2 separate regions of the Homo sapiens genome follow, and region 2 is linked to region 1. Evidence: fine-mapped expression QTL. A gene starts in region 1. The other region holds a variant in brackets. All regions are shown on one strand. Distances are from middle to middle.

Region 1 (2,500 bases):
CAAGGGCACCAGGCTCACGAGGGACAGTCCCCTCCATCCTCCACTCAAGCCCCACCTGCCCAGTGGCCTTCCTTTCACACATCACGCACATTGCATTTCCAAACCAAGTCTTTGCACAGACTCTAATGTTCCTTTCTCTTGTTCTCCTCCAACCTACCATTGAGCCTTTAAGGCTGAGCTCCATCCAGCATTTGCTGAGCCTTCCCTAGTGCCTCTCCCCGGCCTGCAGCTCCCTAAAGTACTCTCTCTTCTGGGCTCTCCAGCAATCATTACTTCAATCTTCCTCATTAGACTCTGAACTCCCTGTGGAGGGCTGGAATCACTTTCCCTCCTATGGCCCCAAGTCAAAGCCTGGCATAGAGTGGATAGAAAGTCCCTACACCCTGACCCGTCCGCACTCCCTAACACTCCTACTCTCCCAGCCAGCCTTACGGCATCGCCACAGTTCTCCCTGAGAGAGGCAGAGGTACTGCCAGCTGCACAGGTCAAATTCTAGTGGTTAAGAAAAGGCCAGGATGAGAAAAGGGTGCCCAGGGTGTGCATGCGTGATGATGGTAACGAAGGGGTAGAGAAAAGGGGGAGAGCCTGGGTGGGGACCGGTTGTGGGCACCTGGCAGGTTTGGAGGCGGGGGCATCAATGGAGGTGGGAAGCGATGGGTCAGACCAGGCTGGGGGGAGACTCTCGCGCTGCAACTCCCAAGGGAAGGAGAGTGGGGGAAAGGAGTCAGGGCAAAGCACTGTCTAGTTGTCCCGGGGTTCCCAGAGCTGCGGGGTGGACCTGGGGTGGGGAGCGAGGGACGAATCCGTCGGTGCTGCCCGCGGCCGGGCCCGAGCGGGGTGGTGCACGGCTGGGGACAGGCTCAGCTCTACACGATGCATGGGGAGGATCTGCAGCTACTGTTACCTCTGCAGTCGCCACCGCCCAGCCCGAGCCCCAGGCCGCCCAGGATGGTCTCGGACTGGCCGTCGCTGTACATGAAGGCCGTGTCCAGTTCGGTGTGGCCGCGCTCCAGAAAGGCGCGCACGGCCGCGGCGCTGGCGGGCGCGTCCATGCGGCGCCCCATCTCCATGGTGCCCAGCACCGAGGCGACCCGCGGTGGCGGTGGCCGGGACATGGCGAGCGCGCGGGCCTCGGGCGGCGGAGAGCGAAGCGCGCAGTGGACGGCGGCGCGGGAGACTACGCGAGACGCGGCACTCAGCATAGCAGCGGCGCCTGCGCGTTGGGAGCCGGGGGCCCCGCCCATGCCGGGGAGGAGCGCGGAGGCAGTTGGGGGCGGGGACAACAGGCGCGGCCCCAGCGGCGCCTCCAGGCCCGGTCAGCCCAGCGCGCGGCGTGGGGGCGGGGCCTGCGGTTCCCGCGGGGGCGGTGGCGCGCGGTCAGCTGACCCGGCGGGCCTTGACCCAGAAGCTGGGCCCTGGCGGCGGATCTGGACGTGGTGAGCCGGACCGGGGGCAGGTGGCAAACTTCACGGCTGGGGGTCGGGGCTCCTGGGCTTCCCTGCCACATCCTTCCAGCCCTCTCCTCCGGCCGCTGGACTGTCCCGGCTCCTGCGCCCTCCTTGTGGCGCGATATCGTGGGACGAGGCTCCGGGCCGGGACTGGGTGGCCCTCGGGAATCCGCAGCCAGTGGCCCCCCACCTCAAAGGCGACCAGCGCGGCCTCTCGAGCTGGCCTGGCCAGGAGTTGCCCTGCCCCGGCCGACCGGCCCCTTGGCATCTGATGGCTTCGTTTTTCCCGGGCCGGCCGGGCGAGGGGCCCTCGCGGCGCTGGCCCCAGCAGCTGTCCTATCATTATCCCTCCAAACAGGCGGCCCGCGCCGGGCTGAGTCACCAGGAGGGAGCTGTGGCCGAGGACGCCGAGGCCTGGAGTGGGTGGTAGCCCCGAGCTGGGACGCTCCTCCCTCCACAATCTCCCCAGGTCTGCAGGGACCGAGGGCCTACACTGCCTCCTCCCACGCCGTGCTTAGGGTAGGTTTCCAAACGTGTAAATGGAGAGTCTGAGTCTGGAAGTGTGAGGGGTCCCGGGCCTGGGTCACAGGTCATGTCTAATCAACGCTTACTGAAGGCGCCTGTGTGCCCGGACGCTGGAGGGGCTACAATGAGAACAAATAATAGTCATTTTGGGCTGTTGGTGTTGAGTGCCAGTGCCAGGCACCCTTGTAATCGCTTGGCCTGGATTGTCTCATTTAACTCTGCAGTCAGCCTAGGTGGTGGGTATTGCATTATTCCCCTACTTTTCAGATGAGAACTACGAAGCTCAATCACTTGAGTTCCAGACTGGTAGGCATCGGGCAGGTCTGTTCCAGAGTGCTTTTCTCCTCAACCCTGGGCTGTTCGAGCTCACAGCTTTCTCCCCTTCCTTTCTCCTTTCCTTCCTCTTCTCTCTCTTCCACCCTTTCTCCTTTCTCACCCGTTTCCTCTCTTCTTCACTCTGTCCTTCTCTCTACCTCTCTCTTTCTCTCACTGTCTCTCAACATTTGCTGAACCTCTAGGTGTGTTTA
Region 2 (3,004 bases), 27 kb before region 1:
CGAGCGCAGGGGCTCACGCCTATAATCCCAGCACTTTCAGAGGCTGAGGAGGGCGAATTGTCTGAGTTCAGGAATTTGAGACCAGCCTGGGCAACATGGTGAAACCCTGTCTCTACTACAAATACAAACAATTAGCTGGGCATGGTGGCGCACGCCTGTAATCCCAGCTACTGGGGAGGCTGAGACAAGAGAGTTGCTTCGGCCCAAGAGGCAGAAGTTGCAGTGACCCGAGATCATGCCACTGCACTCCAGCCTGGGTGACAGAGTGAGACTCTGTCCCCCCAAAAAAAAAACATAGAAAAAGACCAGTGGGAAGAATGTTTGTGAGAGTTGAAAGAAAGAGAAATTTCAGAGGAATCGATAAACAAATGTTTCAGCCTTCATCTAAAGATATTGCTGGTTCCCCTGGAAGGGAAGAAGCTGAGCGCACAGGGTCACTGGTTACCTGCAGCTGTGAGTGGTGGTACATCCACCGGAGGGTGGCCGAGGTCATGCTGGGGGCGCTGGCGCCATACGCGGCCTGCAGGGCCTTCTCCACCAGGGCAATGCCCTCAAAGTGGTGCTCCTTCCAGTAGCTGGGAAGGGGGGACGGTGGCACAGGTGTCAGGGCCACATTGGGAGCCACAACCAAAGAGCCAACCAGGGCCACTGTCCCACCCCACACCCTGCAGCCCTGAGGGGCAGGTGTTCTCTCTAGCCATGGGTCTCCCACTTTGCTGGGCAAGAGAACCACTCAGGATGCTGGGCCCCTCAGCAGAGACCTCAACAAATCTTTATTCCTGAGGACTCATCAGCCTGCTCTTATTTTCCTTAGGGACACAAAGGCCGCTAAGATGGGTCAGGACTCAGCCCCAGGCCTCCTGGACCTCCCTCCAGAGCTCCTTCTTTCCTTCCTAGCAGGTGATTGCTCAGGAAAGAGCAACGACTTCAAGACCCCGAGGTCCAGGGAGTCTCCTTTCCTCCTGGAGGTCCCAAGACAACAAGAAAACCGATGGAGGGTTTGGAAATTCCCGAAGAAATTCAGGGGAGTAGGTGCAGCAGCGAGGAAAGGCCTTACCCCAGGAGCAGCCCAGGACTTCATTCCACATAAAGCTGACCCCACCCCAGCCATCCACACCAAGCACCCACAGCTTACCGATTCCTGTACATCTCTGCCCAGGTATTCCCAAAGAAGCGGCCCACGGGCTGTTTCCCATTCTTGTCCTCATACTTGTACTTGCCGGTCAGCAGGCCCCCTGAGGGAAAGCAGCAATCAGCCCCGGGGCCTAGAGTGCCCCAGAAGCTGCCACATCCCTCAGGGCTCTGGTCTAGGGGAGGGGCAGGGACCCAGGAGGGCTGAAGATGCAGCCTTTACGTCTTTGACCTCAGAGGTCAAAGTTTGTCAAACCCTCCTTGCTTCCCAGGTCCTGGGCTGGGCATCTGTGGGTCGGGAATAGGCTGAGACAGGGCCAGGAATGCTCCACGTACCAGCCAGAGGGTTGAAGGCATAGAACCTCAGTCCAAAGTGCCTGAGGCAGGGGAAGAGCTCCGTTTCCACCTGCCGGGTGATGGCATTGTACATGCCCTGTAAGGAGAGGGGCCC[C/T]GGGGGAGAGGGTGGATGTGTCAAAAGAAGAGACTTCAAAATTACCCTTCCAGAACCCTTATTTCAGACCTTAACAATTCTAGGACTTTAACCGTCTGGGCGTATACTTATTCTAACTGGTGCTGGTGAAAGAAGCTTATGCCCATGGAAAATTCATTCATTCTGCCAACTTTCATGAGCACCAACTATGGGCTGGTTGTCAGATTTAGATTCTTAAGCCAAAAGGACAGGGTCCCTTCCCTCAAGGTTTTATAATAAGGTCAAGTATAAACAGTTATAATCAAGTCATGAGGCAATCATAATAGACTAGAAAGTTCTGTGACCAGTGCCTGGCACCAAGCAGGTGTGCAAATATTTGTGCAATGAATCATGAGGAGGTAAACAAGGACCTGAGGTCTCAGGGTCTTCTGGGCCCATCTAGAAAGGCTTCCAGAGGAAGAGACACGTATGTGAGACCTGAACCATTCTCTCACGGAAGGGGCGGTGGTGGGGGAAGGGCTTGTTCCAGGCTGAGTGCAGGGGAAGGTAGGGAAGGAAGGGTCCAAGGTGCACAGATAGGCAGGAAGGAAGCAGATGCCCAGTGGCCAGCCTGAGGAGCTTGAATGGCATCCTGAGGGTACCTGGGAGCCATCTGCAGGCTTTCAGCAGGGGAGTGGCTGCTATGCAGAGGGCACAGGGGGCAGTCAGAGGGGCAAAGACAGCCCAGGATGAGCAGGAGTTCTGGAGACCTTGGCCTCTGCAGCCCTGGCTCTCACCTGGTACACAGTGGGCAGGATCCAGCCGTTGCTCTTGCAGAGGGTACAGATCTCGGCCACTTCCCAGGCTGCATAGTTGGAGAGGCCAAGCTCCACGAACTTGCCCTGCTCAGGTGAGGCTCCAGTCAGAACATAGTGCAGCCCAGACCAGGAAAGGGAGGCCAGGGTGGGGCCCCTGGGAGTTGGGCTGTTCCCTGCTCCACCCTGGAACAGCCCTGGTGCCTCTGCTCTCACCATTAGGATCAGGATAAGGAGAGCAGCAGTGGACCACCTCCCAGAGCTCAGGGGTCCCCTCACCTCCTGGTGCAGCTGGTGGCAGGCACGCAGTGTCTCTTCCACCGGGGTGCTGTGGTCTGGCATATGCAGGTAGAAGAGGTCCACTCGGGGACACTGCAGCCGCTTCAGTGACGTCTCCAGCTGGAACCGGAGACTGTCAGGCTTCAGGGAGTTCCCAAACAGTGGAATGGCCTTGGTATCAATTTTCACTGAGAGGAAAGAGAAATGAAATTCAGGGCCAGGCGCCGTGGCTCATGCCTGTAATCCCAGCACTTTGGGAGACTGAGGCAGGCAAATCAGAAGGTCAGGAGTTCAAGACCAGCTGGACCAACATGGTGAAACCCCATCTCTAATAAAAACACAAAAATTAGCTGGGCATAGTGGAGCCCGC

The links. PIP is the estimated chance that this variant, and not a neighbour inherited with it, causes the effect.
Region 2: its variant is fine-mapped to the expression of AKR7A2 in lung (GTEx, PIP above 0.99). The same link has a PIP of 0.9 or more in sigmoid colon and substantia nigra.

Annotation. Positions count from the first base shown.
Region 1 is chr1:19,310,923-19,313,422 of GRCh38, forward strand. It overlaps AKR7A2 (aldo-keto reductase family 7 member A2), which reads right to left and starts at 1,222. Exons shown (of 7, transcript NM_003689.4): 1 at 905-1,222. The coding sequence starts at 1,202. It overlaps SLC66A1 (solute carrier family 66 member 1), which reads left to right and starts at 1,404. Exons shown (of 8, transcript NM_001040125.2): 1 at 1,404-1,967. RefSeq lists an enhancer at 813-1,312 and silencers at 904-1,543, 1,624-1,713.
Region 2 is chr1:19,283,551-19,286,554 of GRCh38, forward strand. It overlaps AKR7A3 (aldo-keto reductase family 7 member A3), which reads right to left. Exons shown (of 7, transcript NM_012067.3): 2 at 2,635-2,822; 3 at 2,338-2,442; 4 at 1,468-1,564; 5 at 1,136-1,235; 6 at 446-575. Among named protein-coding and RNA genes, the nearest start is that of AKR7A3, 3.7 kb to the right of the region's middle. RefSeq lists an enhancer at 77-952. The variant C/T (reference allele first, on the strand shown) is at 1,583.